4 separate regions of the Homo sapiens genome follow, and regions 2, 3 and 4 are each linked to region 1. The links come from fine-mapping of genetic effects on gene expression. A gene starts in region 1. Each other region holds a variant in brackets. All regions are shown on one strand. Distances are between the middles of the regions.

Region 1 (8,139 bases):
TATGTAGCTGCAGGTAATGCTGAAGACGAAGGTATTGTGGACTTCCTAGTTGTAAACTGCCCCATCCCTTCGCATTGCTTACTCAACTTTTGTTTTCCTTCCATGTGGACTACTTTGGAGAGAAAAAGATTGGCATCAAATAAAAAATAGGGTTCTGTTTTTGATGTGATGTTTATGTCAGGCTTAAGAAAAGTAATGGATGGCCGGGCATGGTGGCTCACACCTGTAATTCCAGCACTTTGGGAGGCCAAGCAGGCAGATATCTTGAGGTCAGGAGTTCGAGACCAGCCTGGCCAACATGGTGAAATGCTGTCGCTACTAAAAATACAAAAAATTAGCTGGGTGTGGTGGTGTGTGCCTGTAGACCCAGCTATTCAAGTGGCCGAGGCACAAGAGTTGCTTGAATCTGAGAGGAGGTTGCAGTGAGTCAAGATTGCACCACTGCACTCCAACCTGGGTGACAGAGCGAGACTCTAAGAAAAGCAATGGAATGGGAGAGTATTCTGAAAAGCAGCAAGCCCTGTAAAGCCCAAGATAATAACAATCACATTGATAATAACAAAACTATCTGCACAGTATTTTGTACTTTATAAAATATGTTTATCACATGTGTTTTCACCTATGAAAAATTATTGCTATCCCCATCTAACAGATGAGAAAAACCAATGTTGTAAGAGGTCACATTCAGTGTAAGATTAGACTGTATGTGCACACTGTATGTGTAACAGAATCTTACAGTGTAAGATTCACTCAGCTAAATAAGTAGCAAAGCTGGGCCTGGAAAGTGAATATCTCCACTGCTCTGAACTGGTGCTCTGCACTGCACCGGCAGCAGGAGGGACAGTTCATCTCTGTGCACCATGGTCCCCTGACACAGAATTATTACACCCTGACCTCCTTGGAGGTAGTAGTCTATGCCTCATTCTTCTTCATATTCCCAGAGACTAGCACATAGTAGATACTCAGGAATGTTTGACGAAAGACTGAATAGCTGTATGGCAGAAACTGTAGCAATCATACCATTCCCAGAACCATAACATAACAGCTCGCCTGAGTTGGGTGCTCAAATACCAGGCACAAAACCATACAAGATAAGCTCCTATTATTAGATCTATTCAACAGAAAAGGAAACCAAGTATGAGTAATCAGCTGAAAGTTGCAAATTGGGCACTTTGGCACTAGAGCCTGAGCTCCTAACTGTACCCAACCATCTCTTCCTGCAGGACATTGAGTTACAGTGGCCAGCTCCACCCTTGGAGCAGCCTGGGGGAGCCATCTCTCTCCTTGTGCAAGTCACCTGCCCTCTTTGTGTCTTGGTTTCCCTTGTCAGGCAAAACTCATTAAACTTTTCCTAACTACCTGGAGGATGTTTGCAGAGATTTAATGAGGAGACACATTTGAAAGCATTCTGAAAAGCAAAAAGCGCGATCCAGATGCAGGCATTATAATCATTGTTACTCGCTGCCTGCACCTGCAGTTTGACTGTGGCAACCTCAAGGCCTTCGGCAGCACTTCTAATTGAGCCACAGTGATAATAACACATATAATAGCATACTTGGAACCAGTCAGTCGCAGGGAGATGGGAGGGGCCCTGTGTATATCTTCAGCAACGCTGTGAATAATTACAGCTTAATAAATGGGATCTAACTAAGAGGTGTGGGTCTACCTCAGAGTGAATCCTGGGTTTTGGCTAATTCTTCTACCTCCCTCTCAATTTGGAAAAGACATACACACACACACACACACACACACACACACACACACACCGTTAACTATCTTGTCCTGCTTTACAATTTAATCTCTTAGGATACTGACTTTTACACGGATCTGTTCTACAAACATCTGCCATCCCTGCTAAGAAACAAAAAAGGAAAACAGCATCCCGGAAGCCCTGGATTTGGGCCAGTTACTAACCCCGCATCTGTAAAATCGCTAGCCGCACCTAAACTGTGATGACTGGAGTTCACATAAAACCTAGTTTTACAACTTGTATCCTTCATTAGTAGCGCTCATCTGATCCAGAGGCGGTGAAGCCAATCATGCAACCATGTAATTACTCGGAAAAAGATAAGGGTTGGGGCCCAGGACTGTTCAAAGCTGGGCTGGATGCACAGGAAGGCCAGTGACTGCTGACCTGGGAGGAGAGCGCCAGGGTGCGAAGGCTTCCAGCCATCAAGCAGTAGGAGTTTGGCAGAAGGCTGTGGAGCAAACGCCGGGCCAAGGCAACTTCATGTGCACAGGCACAGAGGCAGATACAGTTTAGACATTCTGGGACAAGGTTAAAGGGTTGGCGTGGCTGGAGCAGGGGTTGGGAGAGTGGGAGGATGTTTCTGCTGGTGGGGAGGGAGAGGTGAGGCGCATTCTGAGGCCTTGGGTTTGTTGGGGGTTCACATTATGCCTGGGGATTCACATCCCTTGTGACTCCTGGACTGTGGGCCCGGACTGTGGGGGTGGGAGAGGACGGGCAGGGTGCCACTACCCCCCACCCCGCCCTTTCTCCCCGCGCGAGGCTGGCTGATGAGTGTCATTTTCTTCTTGGATTTCGCGCCTACGGGCGGTGTGCCCCTTCCAAGGCCCCCACCTCCGCTCTGTGAGGGCAAGATCTGCCGGTGTCCTAATCCCTTTTCCATGTCTGGGCGCACAGATCCAACTTTCCCGGAGAGGCAGCTCCGCGCCATCCCCTAGGATGAGAAGAGGGTGGGTGGCTGTGTGTGTGTCGGGGAGACAGACAGGGGCCAGGGCTCCGGGCTGCTTTCCAGGCAAGCGTGGACAGGACCCCCCCCTTAACCCCCGCCCCGGGTCCGCGACAGGGAGCGGTGAGGCTTTTCTTCGGCCCTGGTCCCCGGGGCCACGCAGGATGTCCGCCGGGCTGGGGTTGCGCACCCGGGGCCTCCGCTGAGCGCGTGCGGAGAGGGGCGCGGCCTCTCCCGCGGGGCCACCGGGCGGGTCCCGGCGGGGGCGGGGGTACTCGCGGTGTCCGGGCCCGCCCCAGCCCTGCCCCGCCCCGGAGCCGCCCGGGACGCAGGGAGGAGGGAAGGAGGCTCGGCCCCAGCTACCCGCGGCGCCGCGCTCCTCCACGCTCCGGGAGGGTAAGTGGCACGGGGCCGGGAGGCCAGGCCTGGGGCCGGGGGCCGGGGGCCGGGGGCCGGGCGGGTGGGGTCCTCAGCCCCTGGCCCAGCTCTGACACAGCCCCGGGAATCGGGGGCGCCGAAAGTCTGGGGGACCTGGGGAGGCGCGCCCGGCGCGGGGGCGGGGGCCCCGGCGTGACAGCTGCGGGCGGGCGGGTATTTTTAGTTTAAATCCAACCGTTCTGTGCTGGCTGCGAAATTCCCGAGCCTTTCCTTTCAACCCCGGGGAGCTTCGGCCGGCCCACAAGAAAAAGCCCTAAAGCCCCGGGCAGCGCGCCCCAGCGGGCCGGGTGCCTCCTCGGGGCTTCCCTCTGCCTCCCCTAGGGGCGGGCTGACCTGTCACCAAGGCTTGCGCGCGGCGGGGGCCCAATCCGCTCCTGGCGACCGCGAGCGCGCTCAGTAGTGCCTGGGAGAGCAGAGCAGGCGGCGAAGAGGGGAAGTCCAACCCCGAATGCTCAGTTTCGTTCAGACGCCTTTTGGCTATGCAAACTTGGCAAGCAGCTCAACCTCTCTGAGCCTCATTCCCACATTTCTAAAGGGGAGGGCAGTGAGGCCAGAGATGGCTTGCAGGGCCTGAGAGAGCCTCAGATGGATGTTGACTTCCCCTGGGGTCTTGGGATCTTGACCCCAAACAGCAGACCCATTGATGTGGCCCATTGGTCAACCCGGGAGCAGTGTCCTACACCGCCCAGCTGACCTCTGCTTCAAAACTGGAAGCCAGGGGCCTCCAGCCTGGGCGGGGTGATAATGAATATTTTCAGTTAACCACTTTGGCCCTGAAGCTCCAACCCTGGGCTTTCCTGGGACTCTCCCAGGTTCCTGGTCACCCCTTTCAACTCTGAAGGGTCACCCTTATCCCTGCACTGGGTGGGGGGGCTTTCTACAGCCAAGGGCTGCTAGTGGGATAGCTTGATGTGTCTTGGGGGCATGCCCCATCCCACATGAATGAGGGCATGAGGAGAATGGACCGTCCTCCCAGAAAGGAGAGCATGTCATAAAATCACTGCCATTCTGAGCTTGGCAGGACAGCGTCCTTCATCCACCAAGAGAAGCAGAAACAGGCCCAGAGAGGGGGAGTGATTTGCCCAGAGCCACACTGCCTGGCTCTCTTGAAGGGCCTGGGCTTGCCGCCTGCACTTCCAGGGCAGCCAACAGCCCATAGGAGTCAGGAGCTGGGAGGTGGGAGGGGCATATCAGTGCCAACGAGCTGTTTTGCTCAGTTTCCTGTCACTGTGCCCCAGCGGGATGCTCCAGCACATGTGGGTCTGCACATTCCTCAGGCCGGACGGTGCTCGGCAGGCTGACAGCCACAGCTGTGCCAAGCCTGCTGGCCCCAGGCGTTGTTTTCAACCAGAGAGGCCCCTCTGGGGGTGGCTGAGCGGGAAGTGGGCTGGGATGTCTTATTTCTGGAACTCGTGTCTTGCTGGGGGTCCTGAGAAGAAGGCCTGAGGATGTGTTGGTGGCACAGAGGGAAGTGGTGAGAATCCAGGCTCAGGTTTCTGCCTCCAGGTACAGTCTGGCACCTGGCTCCCTGCAGGTACACTTCAGAGTGAGTTGGAGTCCTTTCTGTCTGTCTCCATGGGAACAAGGCTCCTGCTCGGGTGCTTTGCATGCTCTCCAGCAGCCATGGACCTGGCCATGCCTGGGCAGCCCCTTTGCCTTGTGATGCAGCCTGGAGCGGGCTGCCGGGGGGCCCTGGCTTGGCGGCCCCGGGAGGCAAGACTGGGCAGGCCCAGCTCAACGTCAAAAGCACCCTGGAGCCTTTGGGAACCCACTGGGCAGCTAGGCTTCCCGCATTGTCCAGCTGTTAGGAATGGGGCAGTCAAGTTGGATTGCCTGAGTCCAGTCCTGCCTTAGCCCGTTCCTGGCTGTGTAGCCTTGGGAAAGTTGCTTCACCTTTCAGAGCTTCAGCGTCCTTCCCCGTGGAAAGGGGCTAACCATAGCACGGCAGGTGTTGCCTCGCAGGGCCTCATGAGCACTAAACGAGCTTTGCCCTGATCAGCATTTTGTATGGTGTCAGACACAGCACATGTGAGAAGGTGTCACAGTTTGAGGCGAAGGGGCCTCGTCGGGATACCTGGGTTCCCCTCTGCTCTGCCTCTGCCCCTCTTCTCCCTGCCTTGATTTCCCCTTGTCTGTCAATGGTGGGTAGTCCTGGCTCACCCCCCTCATGGTCCTCCCAGCACTGAAAGCTGGCCCTTGGCCCCAGGGAGGGCAGGAGGCTCTTGACCCCAAACAGCTGACCCATTGATGTGGCCCATTGGTCAACCCAGGAGCAGTGTCCTACACCGCCTAGCTGACCTCTGCTTCAAAACTGGAAGCCAGGGGACTCCAGCCTGGGCGGGGTGATAATGAATATTTTCAGTTAACCACTTTGGCCCTGAAGCTCCAACCCTGGGCTGCCCTGGGACTCTTTCCCAGGTTCCTGGTCACCCCTTTCAACTCTGAAGGGTTCTAGAGAAGCCTACAGAGGGACTCAAATGTGTTCGTGGGGTCTTCCAAAGCTCTTCCTGCCTCTCACCTCCTAGGATCTGGTAGTAGGCAAGGCTGTCATTGCTTGCCCATTTACAGATGAGAAGGCTGATATCCAGCGGCTGGATGTGGTACAGCCAGGATTAGAACTAAGGGCTTTTGACCTGATGCTCTTCCTGGCACCACATGGCCTATCTTAGACAATCCAAGGACAAAGTTGTACGTTCATCACTGGGAAAACAGTACTGACCGGACAGGATGCTTGTCTTCATTAAGTCATCAGTACTTGCTGGAAAAGAATATGGATTCTGAATATATATATATATATATATATATATATATATATAATCTAAGCAGCCTGACTGGACCACAAAGATAGGAACCCAGGAGCAGCAGTGTTTCCTGACCCTCCCATCCTGAAAGGAACCTTTGCTTTAGGACTTAGGGATGATGTTCTGGGGCTGAGCAGCTAGGAAGCTAGGAAGTGGACGGGGGACAAGTTTGGGAAGCTGATGCCCTAATTTTGACCTCTTGAAATACTTCCCTTTTGGGGTTGCTGCGAAGATAATTGAGGTAACTGGGGATGATGCTTTAGCAGAATGCCCGGCATGGTGCGGGCACACCATAAATAGGACTGATGGTTTTTATTATTACTAACCCTCTACTATCATTGTAACACCAGAGTGCAGCCTGGATCTCTCGCCTGGGTTTCTAGGCTGCAGACGTGGTATAGAGAATCCTAGCATCTCCATGGAGAACTGCTAAGGCAATTATAAAAGCTCAAAACACAACCAAACTAAGCAATGAGTTGTTTAGTGACACATAGCTGAGAAGTAAAATGACGACAAAAAGCAAGAAGGTGATTAGCTTAAATAAAAGCCAAGCATTACCACGCGTGCTGAGGAAAGGTGAGAGAGGATCAGGAGAGTCGGGGGGGCAGTTACAAAGGAGATCACTTTGTAGTTACTGGCTAATTACATGTATGTTTTATACATGCCTTTATACGTAGATTCTATTTCACAAAGTTAAGCTGGTTTAAAAAAGAAAAAGGCAAGGGAATGATAATGCAAAATCAAGGTGATTATCTTTGGGGAGAAGTGGGTAATTGATCAGGGAGATGTCTGTTTCACTCTCAGTGGGATCCATTATGTTCTGTTTCTTCAGTCCAGTGGTAGGCTTGTGAGTGTTATTTTTTATTTATTTTATGTATGTATTTATTTATTTTTTGAGACAGAGTCTTGCTCTGTCACCCAGGCTGGAGTGCAGTGGCCTGATCTCGGATCACTGCAAGCTCCACCTGCCGGGTTTACGCCATTCTCCTGCCTCAGCCTCCCGAGTAGCTGGGACTACAGGCGCCCACCACCACGTCCGGCTAATTTTTTGTATTTTTTTTTTTAGTAGAGACGGGGTTTCATCGTGTTAGCCAGGATGGTCTTGATCTCCTGACCTCGTGATCTGCCCACCTCAGCCTCCCAAAGTGCTAGGATTACAGGCATGAGCCACCGTGCCCAGCCTATTTATTTATTTTTTTGAGACAGAGTCTCACTCTGTTGCCCAGGCTGGAGTGCAGTGGCACAATCTCAGCTCACAGCAACCTCCACCTCCCAGGTTCAAGCCATTGTTCTGCCTCAGCCTCCTGAGTAGCTGGGATTACAGGCATGTGCCACCATGCCTGGCTAAGGGCGTTATTTTTAAATATTTTTATGCTTCATTATTTACAAATAGGAGGCGCATATATTCCATTATATATATATAATCTTACATAATACAAATGAAATTAAAAGATCATGTGGAGCATTTTCAGATGCTTTCTTAGAAAATCTGCCTCTCTCCTCAGATTCCAATGTTAATCTGGCTGGATTTAAAAAATAAAGCAAAAAATTCTGTTGTATGACACATGATTTTATGTGTCATAAATCTTTATGTAGGAGACACGATCTTTAATGTAGGAGACATGATCTCTGTCTTCCCAAATCATACAACAAGTAAGATAATAATAACACTCTATGACCTCAGATGATCAACAGGATTTTTAAAGGTCCTGGCCTAATGATTTATGCTTCTGAATCATAAAATCCTGAAATATTTGAGCTGGAAGGAACCTCAGGTCACCTGGACCAATCTACTGGTTTTATAACAAAACGAAGTGTCCTGGCCGAGGTCACACACGTAGGGAATACACTTCTCTCCAGGCTGCCACAGCTGTGTGACTCTCATGCAGACACCACCCGACAGACAGACCAGTGAGAGTCTTGGGTCACAAGGCTCCTCCTTAGGGCACTCAGGGAGAGAGACGGGAAGTATACCTGAGATTAAACTGATAGGATCATTTTATTTATTTTATTTAATTTATTTATTTATTTATTTTTTGAGAAGGAGTCTTGCTCTGTCTCCCAGGCTGGAGTGCAGTGGTGTGATCTCAGCTCACCGTAACCTCTGCCTCCCGGGTTCAAGCAGTTCTCCTGCCCCAGCCTCCTGAGTAGCTGGGACTACAGTTGCATGCCACCATGCCCAGCTAATTTTATTATTATTATTTTTT
Region 2 (8,128 bases), 98 kb after region 1:
TCTTAATCAGTGATCCAGAAGAAAGGGTGCCCTGAGGATGTGTAAGGCCAGGGAGGGTCTCCTGGAGGAAGTGACTCAGGGTGAGATTAGAGTGATCAGTCAGCGCTAACCAGGTGGAGTGGAGAAAGAAGGGCAATGAGCATTCCAGACACACGGGACAGCCTGTGCAAAGGCCCTGTGGCGATAGGACGTGAGGGTCTTTAAGGAGCTGAGAGATAGCGTTTAAGGAGGGCAGTGCTTTCTTCCCTGATGGGACTGGAGGTGATGATGGTGCCTAATCCCTGCATCCCTGGCAGAGGGGAAGCTTGTGGGGCTTGCAGGAGCTGCCTCTCTGCCCCACACCCATCAGCCAGAGGAGAAAGGAAGTGAGCCTTTATTGGGTGCCTACTGTGCACTTTATGCATAGCATGCGTGGCCTCATTTATCCTTCCTACATTGGTAGGCAAGTATCACTCTCTCCCAACAGAGAAGAAACTGAGGCTCTGAGAGGCTAAGTGACATGCCCTAGATCACACATCTAGGACGTGGTAGAGTCAGGGTTAGAACCCAAGACTCCAAACCTTATATTTCCCCCACATCCCCTTTCACCAATGGTAGAAGATTAGGTCTCATGGACTGTGATGAACTCTAGCCTGCGATCCCCAGAAATCTGGAGTCTCAGATTCATCATGTAAGACCTTGGAGGACTCTTGGTCAGAGCCTCTGTTGGGTATGTTAACTCCTCTACACAACATATACTCCCTCCCCACCCCCATGGGCTCATCAACCCCTGCTTCCCTACCTTCAGGGATGATGTATTAGTCCGTTTTCATGCTGCTGATAAAGACATACCCGAGACTGGGTAATTTATAAAGAAAAAGAGGTTTAATGAACTCACAGTTCCACGTGGCTGGGGAGGCCTCACAATTATGGCAGAAGAAGAAAGGCACATCTTACATGGCAGCAGACAAGAGAGAATGGGAGCCAAGTGAAAGGGGAAACCCCTTATAAAACCATCAGATCTTGCGAGACTTATTCACTACCATGAGAACAGTATGAGGGAAACTGCCCCCATGATTCAATTATCTCCCACTGGGTCCCTCCCATAACACATGGGAATTATAGGAACTATAATTCAAGATGAGATTTGGGTGGGGACACAACCAAACCATACCAGATAGGGAGCTTATAACTTCCTGAGGAAGCCCCTTCTCTCTTTGGAAGAGCCAAGATTGTCATTTTTCTTGTTGGCTTCTTAGAAGGTTGTGTGTATGTGTGTGTCTGTGTGTGTGTGTATGTGTGTGTGTGTGTGTTTTCCTAAGCATTTGGGAAACATATTGAAAGGTGTCTTATTTTTAAGAGCATTTTGGAATCCAGGGCCCTCTAAGTGAGGACGTGAGGTCTAAGTAAACAGGCACTGGGCAGGCAGCAGGAATCCTTTGAGAAGACCATCCCTTGTCAACACTTGTATGTATAAACACTTTTTGGACCTTCAAAGACATTTTCCCCAGAGGATCATGGCCAAGGCACAGCCCCTCTCTTGAATAAGCAAAGTGTTAACTCTGAGAATGAAGGGGCAAATAAAAAAGGACACTTGTAAGCAGACCCTCCATTTGGGAGAACCTTAATTACAGGTTGTTAGTTGCAGTGGAAACCCAGGCTGGGTGGCCCTCCAGCTCATTGTCTTGCCCCTTTTCTCTCTCCCTGGGTGGGTCTCATGGGTCAGAGATTTGGCCCCACCCAACCCAGCAGCTATGGGAAGAACCACCTTCTCTGTGAACTCACACTCATTCAGCCGCTTAAACAATGTGTCACCCACCCCCACCCTCCACTCCCGAAGTCACTGCTGAAATACATGCAGCCAAGAGTACTTATTCATGGTTATAATCAGCCTGTTTTATAAAATCAGTGTCTAAAGACTTTGGTGAGTGAACACATTTGAGACTGGAGGCACAGGGTTAAGCGTTATCATCTGGAGGGGATACTTGGAGCAGGGGAATACATGAGTTGACTCAGAGAGGAGAGGTAGAGAGACAGAACTGCCCAGGTTAGAACCTCCCAGGAACATTTACATTTAACAGTGCTTCTTCATCACCATCATCACCCTCACCATCACTACCACCACCACCATCACTATCATCATCATCACCATCACCATCACCTCCATCACCATCATCACCATCACCATCATCATCTCTATCACTCACACTTACCATCACCATCACAGTCACCATGATCATCACCATTATCACCATTTCCATGATCATTATCACCATCATCACCACCTTACTCTCACCACCCCACCCCCACCCCACCACCATTAGCGTCATGATCATTATCGCATCACCACCATCATCAAGCATCACTGCCATCATTGCCATCACCTCCATCGCCATGGTCACTATCACTATCATCATCACGGGACTGTGGCTTTTGGTGCCCTGGAGGGTGAACCTTGGTTCTTTAGGGAGCCAGCAGATATATTCTATAATAATAGTACTAGTGCTATGATTACTAATATTAATAGTGATGAATGTCACTAACAGTTACTAATAGTGCTAGCACTATTATTATAAATAAGTATTAATAGTACTAATAGTAAGAACTGGTACATTTATCAATCAAGGTATATATATACCTTTGCTTTGAGCCCTCACCACAGCCCAGCAAATAGGGGTAGGTGTTTGATCCCCATTTTGCAGAGCAGATAACAGAGGATCCAATATTGATTTGCCCAAGGTCACATAGCTGTTGAGTAACAGAGTCTGGGTGGGGACCCAGTCTGCTAGGATCCTAAAAGCTGGGCTCGTCCTGCACTCTGCAGCATCTTGACCATGAGGGCCTCACTCTTCTGAGTGACCAGCTCTTGCCCCTGCACTCCTTGGCAGTCAGACATCCATGAAGCCACAACCTGGCCAGTCCCTCCAGAACTTAGGAAATGTTTTCTTGGCCACTTTCAGGGACATTGTAGCAGAGAAGTCCATTAGGCATTTGGACTTGTGAGACTAACCTTCATGTGATACTGATGGCAATAGTGATGGTGATGAAATTGATGATGAAATAAAAGGAGGAGGAGGAAGAGAGGGAGAAGAGGGAAGGAAAGAGGGAGGAAAAGAAGAGAGGGGCCAGGCGCGGTGGCTCACACCTATAATCCCAGCACTTTGGGAGGCCAAGGAGGGTGGATCACGAGGTCAGGATTCAAGACCAGCATGGCCAACATGGTGAAACCCCATCTCTACTAAAAATACAAAACAATTAGCTGGGCATGGTGGCAGGTGCCTGTAATCCCAGCTACCCGGGAGGCTGAGGGAGATAATTGATTGAACCTGGGAGGTGGAGGGTGCAGTGAGCTGAGATCACACCACTGAACTCCAGCCTGGGCGACAGAGCGAGACTCCATCTCAAAGGAAAAAAAAGAAAGAAAGAAAAGGAAGAGGGGGAGGAAAAAGAGGAAAGGGAAGAAAGACAAGAGGAGGAAGAAAGTGACGATGATAAATTTGATGCTGGTGATGATGGTGATGACGAAGATTTAGATGGTGAAATATTAAGGATGCATACTAATCATGACAGCAGCTGGTACATACTTACTATGTGCCAGGCTCTGCCTCATTGGATCCTCATGACAATTCTGTCATGTAGGTGCCATTATTGCCCCATCTGAAGATGAGAAACTAGAGATTCAGAGAAGTCAAGTGACCTTAGGATTCACAGCCAGCACTCTGCTACACCAGGCAAAGATATATGTCACAATGGCAGAGCCTGCAACTGTGTTTTCTATTCTTCCTTTCATGCCTTGAATGCTTTGGGAAAACTGCAGAAACCCTGTTTCTGTTAAAACTTACATTAGCCCTGTTTCACAGATGAGAACCTGGAGATGTGTACTGTCATACAGTCAGTTCAGTGCTACCACCGCTCCTGGCATCCTCCTCGCCCCCTGAACCTGCCCCCCACCACCAGAGCCCCCCAGCCCACTCACCTGTGCTGTGTTGGTTCCGCAGACTCGGCGGTGGCGAGGACTGGGCTCCCTCTTCCGGAGGGCGTGCTGTGTGGCGCTCCCACTGCAGCTGCTTCTGCTGCTGTTCCTCCTCCTGCTGTTCCTGCTCCCAATCAGGGAAGAGGACCGCAGCTGCACCCTGGCCAACAACTTCGCCCGCTCCTTCACGCTCATGCTGCGCTACAATGGCCCACCACCCACCTAACCCACTGGGGCACACAGGTGACTTTCTCCTCCAACCTCCATCAGTCCCAGGGCCCCTCCTGAGGATGCTCGCCAGGGAAACTGGAAACAGGGGCAGGGCAAAGACTGCAGAGCTGCATCCATATCAGTGCTGTGTCAGCGTTCCCAGAAGACACTTACTTTTTATACAGTGTTGTCTTAGTCTATTTATACTAAATGTGTACTACATGTGACTAGGGAATAATGTCTAGAATTTTTATATGATCTGTATGTAAATGCTCAGTATGTATAATTTCATATACGAGTTCTATTTGGAGTTGGGAAAATTCCTAGCAATGGCTCCCTCCAATGGGATTTTGTGGTATTGTTGACTTGGTCTGCAGTCAACCCTAGAAAGCAAGAACAATAACATGTCACTTTCATGGCAACCTCTTCTCCAAAGCGAATCCCAGAATTCAGATGTAATGAAAGGCCTCTGAGCTGCAACGTGGAAGAGCGCCATAGACCCTCACTTGGTGCCCAGCGACTCTTGCTTTATGCGTAATGAGAACAAGTATGCTTGTCTAGTTTTAACAACCACAAAGAGTAGCTGCCACGTGTCAGAAGTAGAAATGGCAATGACCAGAGGCAGGTTCAATGATAGCAGTGACAAGTGACAGAGTGATATCGAGGGAGAAAAAGAAGAGCTGCAGAGAGCAGATCCCCGAACTAAGAAAGCAC[A/G]GCTGTGTGGAGGCATTGCATGCCGGAGCCCTAACCCCAGCTCTCAGCGGCTTCTGATCACACAGACCTATGAGGACTGTCCCTGGTGATGACACCGAGCCCCCATGAAACGGTGAGATCCTGCTCTGTGTGTTTCATTCAGGGAGAAAGGGAAGAAGACAAGCTTGATTTTTAAGATTTCCATGCAGAATGGTGAGGCACACTCGGTGGGCAGCACCCACTGGCAGTGCCCAGGAAAGATGTGTTTCCTCTGTTGCTCCTGGACTGAGTTTTCATCGTCGAGAGCTCGAGCTGCAGGTGAGAAGGGAAGCATCTGCCACGCCAGGGGCCAGGGATCGAGGGTCCAGGACAGAGGTGAGAGAATCTGCTTTGGAGTTCAGCCTGTCTCAAGGGCTCTCCTTCCGCTTCCCAGAAAAGACTCTGGAGACAGCAGGTCTATGGGGCCAAGAAGGTCTCATGTGCATCCCCATATGGGACTAGGGCCCAGGCCACCCAAAACCAGGCCCTCTCCAGCCAGGTGTAGGCGAGCTGGGCTCCATGCACCACCTGGGCTGGGGCCGCGGTGACTCCATGTGAGTTCCCGAGGCCAGAAACTCATCCCTTCCTTGCCAGGGAACTCTGGGATGGTTCCTAAGTGCTCTACAACTGGATCATGTTTTTCCTAAATCAACACTAAATTTTCCCCTTTAAAAAAGTACTTAATGCCCACTCTCTACAAATGGATTTTGTCTGTTCAACTACAAATACGAGGGGATTTCCTCGGACCTTCTGTCCGGCTTTGGAATCATAAGGTATTATAGACCCAGAAAGGCCCTTTAAGTAGAGGGGAAACTGAGGACCTAAGAGGGCCTGATACCCAGCACCATTGCTGTCTCACACACACTGACCCTTTGCCTTTCACTGTGAGCTCTGCCCTTGGGGACCCGGGTCCTAGGCAACTAGGACATTTCACCGGCAGGAAACCCGTGCTGCCAAGGAGAGCCCTTGGGGCTGACTCAGAAAGCGTACTTTTTTTTTTCTTTTAACTCGTCTGTATTTGTTACAACTTTAAGCAGAATGTGACTTGGGCACTATATTTCCATCCACAAGCCTGGCTCTGAGTTATTATTATTATTGTTATTATAATTATTTTGAGATGGAGTTTCGCTCTTTTTGCCCAGGCTGGAGTGCAGTGGTGCGATCTCGGCTCACTGCAACCTCCGCCTCCCAGATTCAAGCGATTCTCCTGCTTCAGCCTCCCAAATAGCTGGGATTACAGGCATCTGCCACCATGCCCAGCTAATTTTTGTATTTTTAGTAGAGTTAGGGTTTTACCATGTTGGCCAGGCTGGTCTCGAACTCCTGACCTCAGGTGATCCGCCCACCTCAGCGTCCCAAAGCACTGGGATTACAGGCATGAGCCACCATGCCTGGCCATTTTTTTTTTTTTTTGAATAGCTTTATGATAAGCTGTAGGCTTATAATTATGCTCCTCCAAACAACACTTTTCTTTGGAAAACAAGCCCTGTAGACTCTCCATCCTTCCATCAAGTTCCTTCCCTCAAGCTGCTTCAGTTTAACTTATTTCTACAAGACTAGTACATGCAGAATTGGCAACTACAGGGGATGAAAAGTTCAAAAAGTAGATCCTACAACCCTGTGACTTGGTTTCCAAATATCTAGAGAAATTTGTGATTTCATGGAAGAAGAGAAAGCACACTTTTCTCCAGATATCTGGAAACCAAGCCATAGGGCCGTTCTCTGCAGGCGACCACCTTACTGGAAAATCAGGAGCTGAGTGAGCCCAGGCAGCCAAGCCCAGATGTCCAGTCCTGGAAGTCAGAGCAGTGGCAGGGTGGGTGGGTGGGGGGGCCTTGCCAGGTGTCCACTTTCCTATGTCACAGGTGAGAAAGCTGAGGCCCAGAATGGGGAAGAAACTGATCCATGGCCACACAGTGAGAGGCAGCAAGGCCAGAGCCCAACTGGCCACCATGGCCCTCAGGTGGTACCCTGCTCATTGTGGTATGATCCGCTCATGTCAGCAACTACATGAAAAAAACAGCCACTGGGCATGTATGCAGCCTGTCACATATACCACATGTTGGGGAAGGAGAAGCTGGAACATGCGGGCGGGGGTGGGAATATCTACCTATATTTTTTAAATTTTGATAATGATGCCATCAAGTCTGTTTGTTTGCATAACTGTTTTTTAAAAAAGAATTGATATTTTCAGTATTTTCATATAAATATACTTGTAATATAACGTAACAGCCCAGTTACTGGTGCTTCCAAGCACAAGTGCAATCTCCTTTGCTTAAAGGAGAGCCAGGCAATTATTCTTATGACTTTAGTTTCCAGCCTCTTTAACAGCCATGCAGAGCTTTAAGGTGCTACTTGAGAAAGGTGGCGCTGTGGCGTGTGTGTGTGTGTGTGTGTGTGTGTGTGTGTGTGTGTGTGTGTGTCAGAGAGAGAGAGAGGAGGGAAGGAGAGGAGGGAGAAAGGACCACCAGTGGGTCGGTTGATGAATTAGTTATCCCTGCTTACCTGTCCCTCCCACCCCTTTCTTTCTTAGCCCGTTCTCTGCATGTGGAAAGGCACATGCAGCACCCAGAGGGTGTTTAAAAAGAAAAGCTGGGAGCGGGAGGGATGGGCAGGTACTGACAGCAGACGAGGCGAGGAGACCCTGGGAGGTGCCCAGTGGTGGCGGGACAGAGGGAACACCGACAAGGGAGACAAAGAATGTGCTCGTTTGGTGCTCGTGGGTGCTTGAGCCCCTTGGGCGGCACTTTGCAGCCTTGCTTTATGTAATTCCCACATCGACACCTGCCCCCAGGGTTTGATACTGTTTTACCCCCATGTTTGAGATGGAACCCTGAGGCTTAAAGATATAAAGACCCTTGCTCATGCTGAAGTGGGTCCAAACCCACAACATGGGGCAATGAGGACCCCAAAGCCCAGGCTGGAGGGGGGCTTCAGGCTGGTTCTACCAGGTTGCAGTCTCTGTAGCCTCTGGGAATGGAGTTCCCTGGGCAAGCAGGCAGAACTCTCTGCCCATCAGCTCGCCTGGGACATGGCCAGAGCGGAGCATCCAAATGTTTCCCTGAGGGACTGCCCTCAGCTCTGAGATGAGTCACCACCAGCAGCACATTCCCTTGGGCCATCTATCATTATCTTCACATTGCTCACCTGGAAGATGAGCCCCTCTAATGTCTCATGATGAGGTCCTCGGTCATGAATGACAGAACTCCACACCCCCAATGCCCAGCACAGGAT
Region 3 (8,000 bases), 79 kb after region 1:
CCTAAAAGTAAGATAGGCTTTAAACCAGATTTGATCTTCCAAGGGTAAATTCCTTGTGCTGTGTGGAGGGAAGGGCCAGCCCAGCCTCTTGTGGTGCTACTTGGTGGGGAGCCCTGGGGTCCCCAGCGGGTGTGAGAGCCCTGCAGGGTGGGGGTGGTGCGGGGGTCTCCCCCTCGGCCAGCACTCAGGATGCCCTGGGCTCCCCGGGCTGTGCTGCAGGACCTTGTGGACAGGTGTCGGCAGAGTGTGCAGGAGCACTGCACCTTCAGCCACCAGCTGCTGGAGCTGCGGCAGTGGATCGTTGTGACCACGCAAAAGCTGGAGGCACACCGGGGAGAGGCGGGCCCGGGGGATGCCGAGTCCCAAGAGGCCGAGTTTGAGGTAAGGCGGTGGTTCCCTCACCCACTTCCCAAAGAAGCAGCCTTGACAGGCCAACGTTCCCACACCAAGGAGCAGAAACCTCCCTCCACCCTCACCGTGTGTGTGTCTGTGTGTCCGTGTGTCCTTTAGAGGCTGGTGGCAGAATTCCCGGAGAAGGAGGCCCAGCTGTCCCTGGTGGAAGCGCAGGGCTGGCTGGTGATGGAGAAGTCTTCTCCGGAGGGTGCTGCCGTGGTGCAGGAGGAGCTCAGGGAGCTGGCAGAGTCGTGGCGGGCCTTGAGGCTGCTGGAAGAAAGTCTGCTGAGGTGAGAGTGCCTCCTAGGCTCTGAGCGTTGTCTGGGACACTGCCCCTTCTCACTCAGGGACACTCAGGTGCTCGTGGAGCAGAGGGCCAGGGTGCTGCCCAGTGTGGAGCCAGGGGCCGTGGGCACCTTCACACTTTGGCCCAGTTGGCTATTCTAGCAGGAGCAGGAGGAGCCAGGAAATGTCCCCGTCTTGGGAGTTAGCCTCCAGTCTATACTGGCTTGAGCCTCAGTTTCCCCATCTGCATCTATGGGCGTACGCACGTTCATGACAGGTTACTCTGAGTTTAAAGTCAGAAACCGGATGTGAGCATGCCTCAGGAACATTCTCACAAACTTCAGTGGGGGGCACTGACTCGTGACCCGTGGTTCCCCAATTCTATTACTTTTCCCATGTCCTGGTGGGTCCCCACCACATCTCTGCATTGACTGGGCTGAGTTTGTCTTCTCAGCCTCATCAGAAACTGGCATCTGCAGAGGATGGAAGTGGATTCGGGGAAGAAAATGGTTTTCACCAACAACATCCCAAAGTCAGGATTTCTCATCAATCCCATGGATCCTATTCCCAGGCATCGTCGACGCGTGAGTCTGTCTAGCAGGGCTGTGGGAGAAGGGGCCAGGCCCCAGGTCAAGAGGTGGGTAGGGGTCTCCAGCACAGGCCCCTCCCTGTCTGGGGCAACATGCTCTGCTCTGAGGACTTGGCCACGTCCTGTCTCATTTGAGCCTGCCCCAGCTGTGGCCAAAGAGCATTTGATCCTACTCCACAGAGGACCTCAGAGATCCCAGAGTCTGCAGAGCCAGGCCACCAGGGCAGTAGGGGTATCCCTTAGCCAGTCAGATACTCACCTCTGTGAGCCACTAGCAGCAGCTCCTGCAGGGAAGAGAGTGTCGGGGCTGAAAGCTTCCTGCTGGCCCCAGATTGGAAACCGAAACCATACAAGATGGGAAAACTTTTCTGCCATGTTTCATCCATCCCTTACTGCCTCTAAACAAACTTGAGCTTTGTGGAAAAGAAAGTTATTCCTTGTTATTCAAATACATCAAATTATTCATTTTCCCATTCATTCTTTCATCCACTCCTCCATTTGCTGAGTGCTACTTTGTTCCAAGAACTGTGCTCAGAGCTAGGATACAGCCGTGAGTAACGCTTCTGACCCTCAGAGAATTTGGAATCCGGCATAGAGCTTTTCAGTGGGCACACAGCCTTGTATTAAAATGCAGGTTCTGGGCTGGGTATGGTGAGCTACACCTACAATCTCAGAACTTTGGGAGGCTGGGAGGCCAAGGCAGGAGGATTGCTTGAGGTCAGGAGTTTGAGACAAGCCTGGGCAAGATAGCAAGACCCCATTTCTATAAAAAATATTTAAAAATTAACTGGACATGGTGGTGTGCTCCTGTAGTTCCAGCTACTCAGGGGCCTGAGGTGGGAGGATCACTTGAGCCCAGGAGTTTGAGGCTGCAGGGAGCTGTGATTGTGCCACTGCACTCCAGCCTGGTGACAAAGCAAGACCCCATTTCAATCAATCAATCAATCAACAAAAAATAATGAAATAAGATAAAATGCAGACTCTGAGTTAGTAGATCTGGCTAGGGCCCACAATTCGATTCTGCATTTCTAACAAGCTCTCGGGATAGGCCCATGCTGCTGGGCCCGGGAGATACTCACCTCTGTGAGCCACTAGCAGTAGCACCTGCAAGGGAGAGAGCATCGGGGCCGAACACTTCCTGCTGGCCCCAGAATGGAAACTAAAATCATACAAGATGGGTCTATTTTTGTGCCATGACTATATTTTATAAAAGAAAAAAAAAAGAACTAACTACATTGTTTTACCCATCACTTTCCCTTACTGCCTTTAAACAAACTGAGCTTTGTTGAAAAGAAAGAAGCAAGGGAGTGGCATCCACAGGCTGTTAAATAAGGATTTACAAAAAACAAAAAACAAACAAACAAAAAAAACATGGTGCACCTTGGCAGACAGGCCAGAGGCTATGGGAGCCTGCAGCAGTTCCTAGGTCCAGGACCGGGAAGCCTCTCCTGGAAGATAAGACATCTCAGCTGAATTTTCACGGCTGAGTGGCAGTGAGGAGAGGAGGGAGAGAGGTGTGTTCCCCACAGAGGAGACAGTATGTGTGAAGAGCAGAGGGAGAAATTCGAGTGCCAGTTTGAGGGGCCAAGACACATCTGCAGGCCCAGGCTCAGAGGACAGGGAAGACAGCATGCGCAGTGGAACCAAGACTCCCGGGTCACACTGGGGAGTAGTGAGAGGCACCAATGTGGATAACCAAGAAGTTAGCTGAATGGGCTTGCATCATAGACAGAGCACTCCGGTCATGGAGCCCCGAGGGGGCAAGCATGGTGGAAGGGTGA[C/G]TATTTGTATAGCCATCCTGGTAAGAGATGGTGGTGGCTTCCGTCACCTCTCAGGGGACCAGAAAGGGGACAGTGAGGAATGTTCTTGGCCCTTAAATGTGACCATGTTGAGTAGAGATTCATTGTTCATCCCCCAGGCCTCTCCCGTCGCCATTTTGGGCATCTTGTCCTGGTCCCTGCCCCTCTGCCTCAGGTGGAATTCCCAGGACACATGGCCAGGGGGGCTCTTTCACCTCTGACGCTTTGGCCGTGTGTGATCCTACAGGCAAATCTTCTACAGGAAGAAGAAGGGAGCCATGAAGATTTCTCCCAGCTCCTGAGGAACTTTGGGCAGTGGTTGCAGGTGGAAAACTCCAAGCTGGTTAGAATCATCGCAATGAGAACTTCTACAGCTGAGGACTTGAGGACCAGAAAATCGAAGCTGCAGGTCTGTTCCCCAGGAAAGGTCCCTCATCCATAAGGTTTGCACCCACAGAGGCATTTGCCACCAGGGAGTTCTTCAAAAGAAGGAACACACCCACAGTTTGTGAGCTGTTCTCCCTTGTGTATAGATAATCGCTTTTAAACTTTTTTGGTTCAAAGATTTTAGAACTTTTTCTGGCATTCATTCGTGTGTTCAGCATGCTTATGTAGTTCCCTACTTGGAAAATATCACCACTAATCACTTGACTCCTGTCACTTAGCTATTGCTGTGTGACACACCATCCCAACAGTTTGTGGCTGATAACAATAACTATGTATTTAACCCATGGTTCAGAAGCATGGCAGGTTAGGCTGAACTCAACCGGGCAGTGCCTCCAGTCCGTCTGCTGTCAGTTGTAGGTCAGTTGGGTGTCTCTACTTCTAGGGGCTGGTGGGCTATTAGAGATGAGAATGACATGGACTACACATCTCGTATACTCCTGTGGCACAGCTTGGACTTCTCATAGCAGAGGCAGGGCAGAAAAGAGCAATAGCAGCAGGCAAGGACTTTTGAGGTCAAGACTAGGAGCCAGCATAACATTAATTCCCCTGCATTCTGTTTGCCAAAACCAGCCTAGAGTCAAGGAAAGGGAAAGAGACTCCACTACTTGATGGAAGGGATGGCAAAGTCATATTGCAGTGGGTATGGATATGGCTGGGGGGAGGGAGATGGGGAAAGTCACAGCCATTTTTGCAACTGAACTACTACTTCTCTCCTGTCTTCTTCACTCCCACATCTAATCAGTTGCTAAAGCTCCTTGATTCCACCTCCTAGATATTTTGTGTTTCTCTTCCCTCGCACTACCATTGTCTTAATTTAGGCACTTACCATTTTTGGCCTTGACTATGGCTGTAGCCTCCCAGCTGATCCTCCTTTCTTCCTGTTGGGTCCCATCTAGGTCATGGCTCATCCTGCAGCCAGAATAACAAATATGACCCTGTCCTCCCCCTAATGAAAACCTTTCACTATAGAGTTTAACCCCTGAGTTTATTATTCAAGGCCATTCTCAACCAGGCCCTAGCTCACTTCTGTTTCCCTATTTTTATGCAATCTTACCATGATATGTTTAGGTTTGAATTTCTTTTTATTTATCTGGGTTGGGATTCATTTTAACTCCCGAATCTGTGGTCTAGGATCTTTCTGGAAAACTCTCTAACCTTATTTTTTTTTCTCTTAATTCCCAAACTTGTTACTTGTATTTTTTTCTACTAACAATCTTTCTTAAAATATCACCTCTGCCTTGTTCCCTTTCTCCTCTCCTACTGTGATATCATTTAAACATATGTAACTACTTCTCACTGTGTGCTTTATGTCTCTTACTCTCTCCTGTGTATTTTTCATCCTTTTCTCTCTTCGTTTTGCATTCTGGATAGTTTTTCTGATTCATCTTTCAGTTTACTAATTCTCTCTTTAGCTGTGTTTCATCTTCTGTTACACGTGTCTACTGAGTTCTTAACTTTGGTTGTTGCAGTTATCAGTTCTAGAACTTCTATTTGGTGCTTTTAATAATCTACTCTATCATTTTTCTTATCTTTTTTTTTTCTTATTTTATAGCTCCTGTCTTAACTGAAACTCTATCATTTTTCATACCTTCCAGATACTTGCTGAAATTTTTAAACCTATCTTTTAATTATTTGAACATAGTAAACATAGCTTTTTACAGATTGTATCTAATAATTCTAACATCTCAAGGCATTTTATGAATGTTTCTGTTGTATATTATTTCTGCCTGTTCTTACTCTTGGTTTCTTGTGTCTTCATGTGGCTGCTTTGTGTGCTAGACATTGTGTTTGCCAAAATATGTATAAGAGGGATTTAAGATTTAGGATAGGCAGGGCACGGTGGCTCACGCCTGTAATCCCCGCACTTTGGGAGGCTGAGGCGGGTGGATCACCTGAGGTCAGGAGTTCGAGACCAGCCTCAACATGGAGAAACCACGTTTCTACTGAAAATACAAAATTAGCTGGGCATGGTGGTGCATGCCTGTAATCCCAGCTATTCGGGAGGCTAAGGCAGGAGAATTGCTTGAACCTGGGAGGCAGAGGTTGCGGTGAGCCGAGATCGCGCCATTGCACTCCAGCCTGGGCAACAAGAGCGAAACTCTGTCTCAAAAAGAAAAAAAAGATTTAGGATAATCTTTTCCTCCAGAGTTGATTTTATTTGCTACTGCCAGGCGAGTAGGGACCTTTCATTCTGGGACCACTAAATCCAAGTTCAAGGCTTGAGTTTCCCTGGTCTACTAAGATGACTTTGAACTGGGCTGCAAGTCTACACAAGGTCCAGGTTTACTTCTGGTTCATTTTTAATAGGGTGAAGGCTTTAGGAGCTCAGCAAAAGGGTGAATGAACCCTATCAGAATCTCTACCTCTGCAGGCCCCAGACTTTGGCCTTTGTCTCCCCAGCCCAGTGAGGCTGCCAAAAGCAAAGATGTTTTACAGCTATTCCTTCCAAATTGGCAAATGTTCTGTGGGCAAAAGCAGATCTGAACACAGCACTGACTGCCCTGGGTTTTCATTCTTTCCCAAGTTGTGGCCCGGTGTGCCTCACATTCTTTTGTTAATACTTTTATGCCTTTAAAATGCTTTAAATATTTTGTCCTTAGTGGGAGGTTTGGTCCCAATTATCTAGTTGGCCATTACCTGGAAATCTTCCTTGCCTGCCTCTCCTGTCTCATATCTGGCTACTCCTCTCATTCCCCCCACCGCACCACCACCCAACTCCAGCCATATCAGAAATGACTTTCCGTTCCTCAAGTTAAACCCCCTTGCTTTTTGTACAGCATACATTCCTGTGGGCTCTGAGAAGCTAAGCAAGGTGTCCCATATTACATGCTAGTAGAATGGGGCAGAGCCAGGATCCAAAGCCAGGATTTAAAACTGGGCTCCCGGATTTATAGCCCCGCTCCTACTGCCCCATCACACCACCTCTCAGGAGTCCTGAGAATAAAAGTTTCCATCCCAAGGGAACACAGTACTTCTATTTCCTGAGAAAAATCTGCACATTAAAACACCATTCTGCCAGGCTCAAAATGCTAACAGAAAGACATGTTCACAATGACAGCTTTTAGAATGATGCGAACTCTAGTCAAGCCCTCTGGAGGACTTGGTCCTGGAATGTCATATTTGGAAGTGACCACTGGAGGTCTGCAGCCCAGCTGCCCGTTCCATGCAGGAGGCCATCCTGTAGCATTCCTGAGAGCAAGGGCTAGGCCTTGGCTTGAATTGCACAGATGGGAGTCCCACTTTATGGATTCTGTCTGCCTCCTCCCTGCCTACCTGTCTGTCAAGTGAAATTTGATGGACCCATCCTTACCATTCAGGTGGGGCTGTCTGGGCCATTTGGAAGCCGCACCATGACGCTGCTGTTTCCCCCAGGAGCTGGAGGCTCGGGTGCCAGAAGGTCAGCATCTCTTTGAGAACCTCCTTCGTCTCGGGCCAGCAAGGGGGACCTCGGATGAGCTGGAAGATCTGCGCTACCAGTGGATGCTGTACAAGTCCAAGCTGAAGGACTCTGGCCACCTGCTGGTAGGTGCCAAGGATGTGCAGGTCCCAGATTCCAGGGACAGGACTATAGCTGGGCCGTATTTGCCTGGGGATACAGTGCTAAGCCTGCATCCACCCTGCCCTGTGCATTCACACACCAGACAGTGGTGACCACTCAGGCAGAGGACAGGGACACTCATGGGTTCTGGGCACTTAGGTGACGCCATTTGGCCATCCAACCACCTCATGAGGCTGAAGTCCCAGTCAGGACAGCAGTGACCTCATAATTAATGTGTAAGGAGTGCTTCCTATCTCCCAAGCCGAGGGCCCTGTGTGCACCGTCCCATTCAGTCTGTACGGTTCCCCTCTGCTCAAGTCATTGTATCTCCAGACTGCAGAGGGGAGCTGAGACTCCAAGCAGTGAAAAACCTTGCCCGAGGCCGCGTGGGTGGTCAGTGGCAGAGCCAGCCTGCAGACACACCCGTGTGTTGTAGGCGTGACCTGGGGAAGCACTGGAGTGGCATCAGGAGCCCTGGGGTCCAGCCCCATGTCTCTAACTTGCCCTGTGTCTTAGTTGAGCAAGCACCTTCCTTTTCGGGGGCCCCTGTGTCTCCTCACACCAAATAATAATAATAATAATAATAATAATAATAATAATAATAATAATAGCAAAACTAGTAATGATCATAACCTTTGCTCAATGCTATGTCCTTATAACAGCCCTTTAAAGGAGGTGCTGTTATATGCCCTGTGAACCAATGAGGAAACTGAGGCACGGACATTAAGTTTCCTAGGTCCCTAAGTCTGAGGAGGGTGGTGAGCTGGCCCTTAAGGGCCCTTTCAGCCTCAGACCCCAGCCCCAAGCTGGGCGCCCCAGGCTTTCCTGGCCCGGGAGCAGCCGAGACGGCCACTAGGTGTCAGCCCAGCCCAAGCCAGGTTGGCCATGGCCCCCGCCGGCCTTGGCCACGGCCTTTCCAGACAGAATCCCAGCTGGGCCTGAAGTGTGT
Region 4 (8,139 bases), 24 kb after region 1:
TCTGACTTGGTGCCTCAGTCACTGTCTGACGTGGGCAGGAGAGCCAGCTTCAGTTTCCCCATCTGTCAGGCAGCACGATGACCCCTGATTTGAAGGTTGATGGGGGCCTTCATGGTGTCTGCCCAGTGCCTGGCACACAGCAGGCCTCACCCATGGGAACTATTGCCATTGTGAGTAGCATTTGATAACATTTTACCCAACCAACAGGAGTCTCCTTTGGCACCCTAAGATCAAGACCCAGTGATAACCTTGACACCTACCAGGACAATCATAGGGTCGCAGATGAACCCAGAGCAGGAGACAGGGTAGCAGCAGGCAGGAGACTCCTTAACTGTCAAACAGCATTGTCCAAGGTGGGCCCGGCTGGGCATTTTGCTGGGAAAAGGACTGTAAGGACAGACTGGGCACAGACACTCTTGGAAGGAATGGAGGCTGCTCTCACAGTTCATTAGACATTGGCAAGCTTAATCAGTTCTTGAGAAAAGACCCTTCTATCTGAACCCATGGCCTTTTTTTTCTTTCTTTTCTTTTCTTTCTTTTTTTTTTTGAGACTGAGTCTCGCTCTGTTGCCCAGGCTGGAGTGCAATGGCATGATCTCGGCTCACTGCAACCTCCGCCTCCCAGGTTCAAGCGATTCTCCTGCCTCAGCTTCCTGAATAGCTGGGATTACAGGTGCCTGCCACCACGCCCAACTGATTTTTGTATTTTTAGTAGAGACGGGGTTTCACCATGCTGGCCAGGCTGGCTCGAACGCCTGACCTCAGGCGATCCACACACCTCAGCCTCCCAAAGTGCTGGGATTACAGGCATGAGCCACGGCGCCCAGCACCCATGGCCTTTTTTTTGAAGAGCAGGTTTACAATAAATAGGATGCCTTAGGGTTAAACGGCACCTTACAAGGCATTTCCTAGCATGTGACTTAAGGTGCCCTGTTGCAAGGGCCCTGCTTGGTCCAGTGTGGTTTTCACACCATTGAGCAGATGCTGCCCTGACTGCTTGTGGGTCCTGTCACTGAGTAGGCTGTGCCACTCTCTTGCTCACAAACCCTCACTGGCTCCCTATTGCCCACAGAGTAAAACCCACACAACCCTTTGGAATCCTGTGCTGTTCAGTCCCCTCAGCCTGCTCTCCAGTATGGCCTCCTCCCGTCTCTCTTTGTTAACAATTGCCAAACCCATCCTGCAGCCTGAACTTGGCCTTGCACTTCCCCATCTCCCAGCTTTTGGTCTCGCCAGTCCATCCACTCGTTATGCCCTTTCCCACTTCTCATCTTATTCAGACCCTGCTCATCCTTCACATCCCAGCCAGGGTATCCCTTCCTCTATGAGCCTCTCCTGGAATCTTCATAAGAATCATTGCTCCTTTCTCTAGGCTCTGTGCCTCTGCATTTAACACCCATAGCACTCTCATTTAGAGCTTGTGATCTGGAGAACCCGAGCTTGAAACCTATAGGCCCTAGTGGCACCGCGCCAGGCACATCTGGATGTGGAAGTCAAATGGTCTTTTTTTTTTCTTTTTTTTAAGAGTCAGGGGTCTCACTTTGTTGCCCAGGCTGGCTTCAAACTCCTTCTACCTCAGCCTCCTGAGTAGCTGGGATTGCAGGCAGGCACCACCACACCTGGCTAAATGGTGTTAGATTTGAATTCTCGCCTCCCAGCTACTATCTCTGGAATCTTGGGCAGGCCATGAAACTGCTCAGCTTCAGTATTCTCATCTATAAAACAGGAATGAATATTAAGACCTACCTTTCAAGTATAAAATTAAAAAAAAATTATCTCAACAAATGCTATTGAATTGGATTGAGTAGCTTTCACAGGGGGAGTTTATTCCTCACCGGAATTCCAAACACCAAATGATGGGCTGTTGGGTTGAGAACCCTGGCGCTCAAGGCTATTTGTATGCCCCTGAGGGCATCACTCAGCTTTATTTTCCTCTAAGGCTGTCCGTGGCGGCTGGCTTCCCACAGCGATGCAGCCACTGGTGGCCACCCCTCTTCTCCCAGGCAGGCATTTTGCCCATCCCATGGGGCTGCATTCAGCATCTCTTTTGGGAGGCAGAGTTTTTTTCTGTTTGTTCTGTTGTTTGATTCAAAAATTTCATGTCATTTATATAAGGTCTATAAGACCCATAGGGATGCTGAAATGGTGTCAGGCTCTCAGAAGCAGTCTGGCTCAGCAGCTGGGACAGCTGCAGCTCCGGAGTTCAATACACCTAGGTTCAAATTCCAGCTCTGCCTCCTGGGCAAAACCAGTTCTGAAATTTTATACTCAAGTTATCTCACCTCTCTGAGCCTCAGTTTCCTTATCTCTGATACGGGGATGATTATACCAACCATTAAAGTTGTCTTAAAAAGCAAGTGCATTAATAAATGCTTGGAGAGGGAGGGGCATATTGACTAGCACCTAATACCTGCTCAGTAAATGGAACGTACTGTTCTCCATTTGGAAAAAAAGGTCTCAAGCAGCTTCTTAGCTTCCTTTACATTGGCACCCCATTTATAAGGTACAGGTTTTAGCTTCCTGGAAGGAAAAACTTCCTTTGAGCCTGAGCTATGTAACAACAGAATAGGCTGCCTGAAGAAGGCAGTGAGCCACCCATCACTGAAGGTGTTCAAGAATCTTGGCAGCCTTTGGTGGGTGTATTTTTAAGGAAATTCAAGCAGAGATGGTTGATTAGATTAGGTCAGTTTTAATGGCCCTCCTAGTTTTGGGATGCTGATGTTTTAAAAAACAGCTTTATTGAGATATAATTCATATAATATACAATTCACCCATTTAAAGTGTACAATTCAGTGCTTTAAAAAAAAATAGAGCCAGGTTCTTACTGTGTTGGCCAGGGTGGTCTCAAACTCCTGGCCTCAAGCAGTCCTCCCACCTCGGCCTCCCAAAGTGTAGGGATTACAGGCATGAGCCACCTCGCCTACCCTCAATGCCTCTTAGTATATTCACAGAGCTGTACAGCCGTCACCACAATCATTTTTAGAATATTCTTACTACCTCCAACAGAACCCCTGCACTCCTTCACAGTCAACTCCCAACCCTCCCACCTCCCTAGCCCTAGGAAACCACTAATCTACTTTCTGCCTCTGTAAATTTGCCTGTTCTACACATTTCACATCAATGAAATCATACAATACATGGGACCTTTGTGACTGGCTTCTTTCATTTAGCACAACGTTTCCAAGGTTTCTCTATATTGTGGCATATGTCAGCACTTCATTCTTTTTCACAGGTGAATAATATTCCATTGTATGGATAGACCACGATTTCCTTATCCATTTATCAGTTGATGGACATTTGGGTTGCTCCCACTTTTTTTGGCTATCATGAACATTTGTGCACAAGTTTTTGTGTGGACATATGTTTTCATTTCTCTTGAGTATATATGTAAGAGTAGAATTGCTGGATCTGATGGAAGCTCTATGTTTAATATTTGAAGAACTACCAGGCTGTTTTCCAAAGTCACTGCACCATTTTCTGTTTCTACCAGCAGCATATAAGGGTTCCAACTTCCCTACATCTTCACCAACACTGGTTATTATCTTCCTTTGATTATAGCTATTCTAATGGGTGTGAATTAGTATCCCATTTTGGTTTTAATTTGCATTTCCCTGATGGCTAGTGATGTTGAGAATCTTTTCTGTGCTTTCTGGGCTTCTCAGTGTGCTCATTGGCCATCTTAGATGTAGGTATGATTTAAAGAAATGTCTATTCAAATCATTTGCCTATTTTATAATTGGGTTGTCTGTTTATTATTGAGTTTTAAGAGTTCTTTGGATTTTCTAGATGTAAGTCCCTTATCGGATATGTGATTTGCAAAAATTTTGTTCCATTCTGTGGGACATCTTTTCACTTTCTTGATGGTGTCACTTTTTTTTTTTTTTTTAACATTTTTGCCTTTGAAGTACAAAAGTTTTAATTTTGATGATGCCTAATTTATCTATTTTTTTATTTTGTTGCTGTGCCTTTGCTATCACATCTAAGAAACCATTGCGTATTCCAAGGTCAGGAAGATTGATGCGTATGTTTTCTTCTTCAGAGTTTTGTAGCTTTGGCTCTTACGTGTAGGTCTTTGATCTATTTGGAGTTAATTTTAGTATACGGTGTGATGTAAGAGTCTAATCTCATTCTTTTTCATGTGGATATCCAGTTGTCCCATCACCACTGTTGAAAAGATTATCCTTTTCCATTGAATTGTCTTGGCACCCTTGTTGAAAATTAACTGTCTGTAAATACAAGGGTTGATTGTTTCTTTCTCTGTGAGTCATTTTGAAGAAATAGAATGATCCTTCTCAGAGGCAC[A/C]AGATAGGTCTTGGCCATCACTCTACACTGAGCTGCTGCCAGATCTTGGGCGGGTCTACTTCCTTCACTAAGTCTCCTCATCCATAAAACGGCACAGCTAGATAAGAGAATTCCGAAGGACAAGTCCAACTGTCACATGTTACCTGCAGGGAGGTTTCCACAGAATCTTTCATTGGCTCACTGGAATGTCCTGTCATCCCGTGAGGCTTACCCCGCAACCCGAGATCTAGAGCCAGCCTAAAATCTGGGGGCAGTTCCAGCAACTCCCTACCCTGACCTGGCCCCAAGAACAGCCAGTCCTGCCTTTCCAAGAAGTTGATGTTGTGTGTATTTATTGAATAAGCAGCACTGCCCTCCTCCTCTGTGCCAGCTGTGTCCCAGGCCTGAGGATACAGAGGGGATGAGACATAGCCTCTGCCCTTGAGCGGGACATTCTAATGGGAAGGTAGACATATCAACGGATGATGCAGAGCTGAGTGGGGCATGCTGGCTGGTACTGCGTGCCACAGCCTGCAGGTGTGAGAAGGTGGATGGCAATGCATGGCTTTGCCGATAGGGCCACAGGCCTGGCCCATGTGGTGAACACTTGCCCTGGGCCATATCTGAAGAGTGTCAGGTTGAGCTGTGGAGTCAGGCCACCATGGGGAACTCTTCATAGCTCTTTCACCCACCAACCAGCAGCAGCTCTTACTTGACTTACACCTTTGGCTCTGCAGCCAGCCTCAGCATGCTGACCAGGGGCTTGCTGGACACTTGTCTACAAGCTCAGTATAGTTCAGGGTAACAGGAAGCCTCTGCAGCTGGCCTGCCTGAAGTTCAATCTTGGCTCTGCATGCTTTTGGGAAAGTTATTTAATATCTCTGTGCCTTGTTTCCTATCTGTAATAAAGGGCTGGCCATGGCATCTACCTGATAGGATGTTTGCTTCTGAAGCCCTGTATGGTGCTGTAGAAAATAGCTGGGCACAGAGCTAGCTCCTGCCAAGGTCTCCAGCTGTTACAGGTTGGAATTATAGCTTGGAACAATATAGCATTTACTCCAGACTGCTGTGCATGCCATAATCGGTTATAGCCCATGGCTATTATGCGTTATAACATGGAAATATGGTATAATTAGCCTTTAGCTTGCCAGAACAAGAGATGACGGTGATAGTCCTTTACATTGGGATAGGGCAGGGCCTCTCAGCAGCGTGTATTTCCCTTACTAACTGATTCCGTTAGAAAAAGCCCCAAGGTGAATCGGACGTTGCCTTGTCCTTCACAACAACCTTCCAACTTAAAGCTCACTCGTCTCAGAGTGGGTGGAAGTCAGGTGTGAACTATTGCTCCACTCTGACCATTGAGGAAACTGGGGTTTGGGAGCAAGTTGGCGGTGGAGCCCACGCTGGAACCATGACTCCTAACCCCATTCCAGAGCCTGTTCTGCCCCCACTCGTGGCCTGAAGGAAGCCTCTTATTTTGGGGTTACAGAGTCTGTGCTGAGGCCCACTCTTGCCTCTGATTCCTGCCTTTCTCAGTTCCCCTGAGCCAGCAGCATGTGAAATCAAGGACTAATGAGGGCAGAGAGATGTCCATCCTGGCTCCACACTTCTTTCTTTTCAAAAAAAAATAAGCCAGGCATGGTGGCTCGTGACTGTAGTCCCAGCTACTTGGGAGGCTGAGGCAGAAATCTTGGGCCTAGAAAGTTTGAGACCAGCCTGGGCAACATAGCAAGACCCTGTCTCTAAAAATAATCAAATAAAAGAACACTTTCTGAGTACCTACTAAGCACCAACCGAGGTAGGTATTGTAGTTTATATTTTCCAGATGTATCTTTCATTCACAAATGTGTGTGAGCACTTACTGTGTGTCAGTAAGTGCCACGTGTTGTGATCAAAATAGGCAAGGGCTGTGCCCAGAGGCAGTTTATGTTCAAATGAGAACAAAAGGCTCAGAGTTCAGAGGAGTTGGACTGGATTCAGGTCCCTGAACTCAAAAGTTGTTGATTTTCAATCCTTATTCCAGGAGAACCCCTGGCAGCTGCATGAGTTGTTCAGAAATTCCAGGCCCTACACAGGAATCTGTCTGGGACCTGTAGGAGATGGGAGAGAGGCCCCATGGATGTGCTGCTGGGGAGCTCAGAAAGCCCCATGCACCTGTGGGTGACTCCATTTGTCTTCTGCTTTTACTGGCTTTGGCTGTTGCTTCATGGTGCTTGGTTCTGTCCTCAGAGAGTTGCCTGCAGGGAGTTGGCTGGCAGCACCCTGAGAATTGGAGCAGGTCCCTGTTGGCCAAGTGTCTTTGTCACTCAGTCACTCAGCTGCTCACCCCCTTAGCCATCAGCCAGCAGGCCCGGTGCTCAGCACACCAAGGAGCTTTCAAGGAGGAGATCCCTGGGAAGTGCTCAGCACAGAGTCTGGGAGCTCAGTTAGGCCGTCCTACACCACAAATGCCAAAACCAGTGAGAAATGCAAGCCACAGTGAGCCAGCATGACATGCTACCAGAAGGGCTAAGATGAAAAGACTGACCGTACAGTGTTGTCAAGGCCGTGCAGGAATTGGAATTCACACATGGCTGCTGGGTATGTAAAGAGGTGCAGCCACTTTGGAAAACAGTTTTGCAGTCCCTCCTCTCCTCTCCTCTCCTCTCCTCTCCTCTCCTCTCCTCTCCTCTCCTCTCCTCCCTTCCCCTTCCCTCCCCACCCCACCCCTCTTTTATGAAACAGGATCTCCATGTGTTGCCCAGGCTCATCTCAAACTCCTGGGCTCAAGTGATCCTCTCACCTTGGCCTCCCAGAGTGCTGGGATCACAGGTGTGAGCCACCACGCCTGGCCTTGGCAGTTTCTTAAATATACACCTACCATGTGATCCAGCCATTCCACTCCTAGGTATTTACACAAGAGAAATGAAAGCATATGTGCACACACAAGTATTCATCACAGCTTTGTTGGAAACTATCCATCCGTGGGTGCATGAATCCACAATCTGTGGCACAGGAATGCTATGGAATAGTACTCAGTAACAAAAAGGAACAAACCACTGATACAGGCAACGACATGGATGAATCTCAAAATAACCATCCTGAGTGAAAAAATCAGACCCCTCTCTCTAAAAAGAGTACAGTTGACCCTTGCACATTGCAGGGGTTAGGGGTACCAGGCCCTTGCACACTTGAAAATTTAAGTCTAACTTTTGAATCCCCCAAAACTTAACTGCTAATAGCTACTGTTGACTGGAAGCCTTACTGATAACATAAAGTTGATTAATACATACTTTGTATGTTGTATATATTACATACTATATTCTTACAATAAAGTAAGCTAGAGAAAAGAAAATGATATTAAGAAAATCATAAGAAAGAGAAAATGTATTTACTGTTTATGAAGTGGAAGTGGGTCATCATAAAGTTCTTCATCCTTATCGTCCTGATGTTGAGTAGGCTGAGGAGGAGGAGGAGGAGGAAGAGGAGGGGTTGGTCTTGCTGTCTCGAGGGTGGCAGGGGCAGAAGACATCTGTGTATGAGGGGACCCACACAGTTCAAATCTGTGTTGTTCAGGGGTCACCTGTATTTTCTGTGTCATCCCATTCCATTCATGTACAAAACTCTAGGAAATGCAAACAAATCTACAACGACAGTCAGCAGATCAGTGGTGGCTGGGAGAGGGTGTAGGTGGGAGGTGGGAATTACAAAACCAGCCAGGGAGCTTAAAGGGGAGGCGGGTATGTTCATTTTATGGACGGGTGTTGGCTTTATAGGTGTATATCTAAAACTTATCAAACTGTGCAGCTGAAATATGTGAAGTGTCTTATTTACCAATTATACCCCCAAGAAGGTGGTTTAAAATAATGGCAGCTCCAAT

What was found.
Region 2: its variant is fine-mapped to the expression of SYNE3 in whole blood (TOPMed, PIP above 0.99).
Region 3: its variant is fine-mapped to the expression of SYNE3 in whole blood (TOPMed, PIP above 0.99).
Region 4: its variant is fine-mapped to the expression of SYNE3 in cerebellar hemisphere (GTEx, PIP above 0.99).

What each region holds. Positions count from the first base shown.
Region 1 is chr14:95,511,546-95,519,684 of GRCh38, reverse strand. It overlaps SYNE3 (spectrin repeat containing nuclear envelope family member 3), which reads left to right and starts at 3,035. Exons shown (of 18, transcript NM_152592.6): 1 at 3,035-3,089. It overlaps SYNE3-AS1 (SYNE3 antisense RNA 1), which reads right to left and starts at 3,565. Exons shown (of 2, transcript NR_188030.1): 1 at 3,465-3,565; 2 at 1,774-2,681. RefSeq lists an enhancer at 1,206-1,355 and silencers at 2,780-3,589, 3,339-3,633.
Region 2 is chr14:95,413,876-95,422,003 of GRCh38, reverse strand. SYNE3 (spectrin repeat containing nuclear envelope family member 3) reads left to right here. Exons shown (of 18, transcript NM_152592.6): 18 at 3,978-8,128. The coding sequence ends at 4,178. Among named protein-coding and RNA genes, the nearest start is that of LINC02292, 88 kb to the right of the region's middle. The variant A/G (reference allele first, on the strand shown) is at 4,877.
Region 3 is chr14:95,432,295-95,440,294 of GRCh38, reverse strand. SYNE3 (spectrin repeat containing nuclear envelope family member 3) reads left to right here. Exons shown (of 18, transcript NM_152592.6): 12 at 220-381; 13 at 511-683; 14 at 1,133-1,262; 15 at 3,314-3,475; 16 at 6,886-7,035. Among named protein-coding and RNA genes, the nearest start is that of SYNE3-AS1, 80 kb to the left of the region's middle. RefSeq lists an enhancer at 539-1,738. The variant C/G (reference allele first, on the strand shown) is at 3,049.
Region 4 is chr14:95,487,520-95,495,658 of GRCh38, reverse strand. The region is part of intron 1 of SYNE3 (spectrin repeat containing nuclear envelope family member 3); the gene reads left to right. Among named protein-coding and RNA genes, the nearest start is that of SYNE3-AS1, 25 kb to the left of the region's middle. RefSeq lists enhancers at 1-33, 1-423. The variant A/C (reference allele first, on the strand shown) is at 4,302.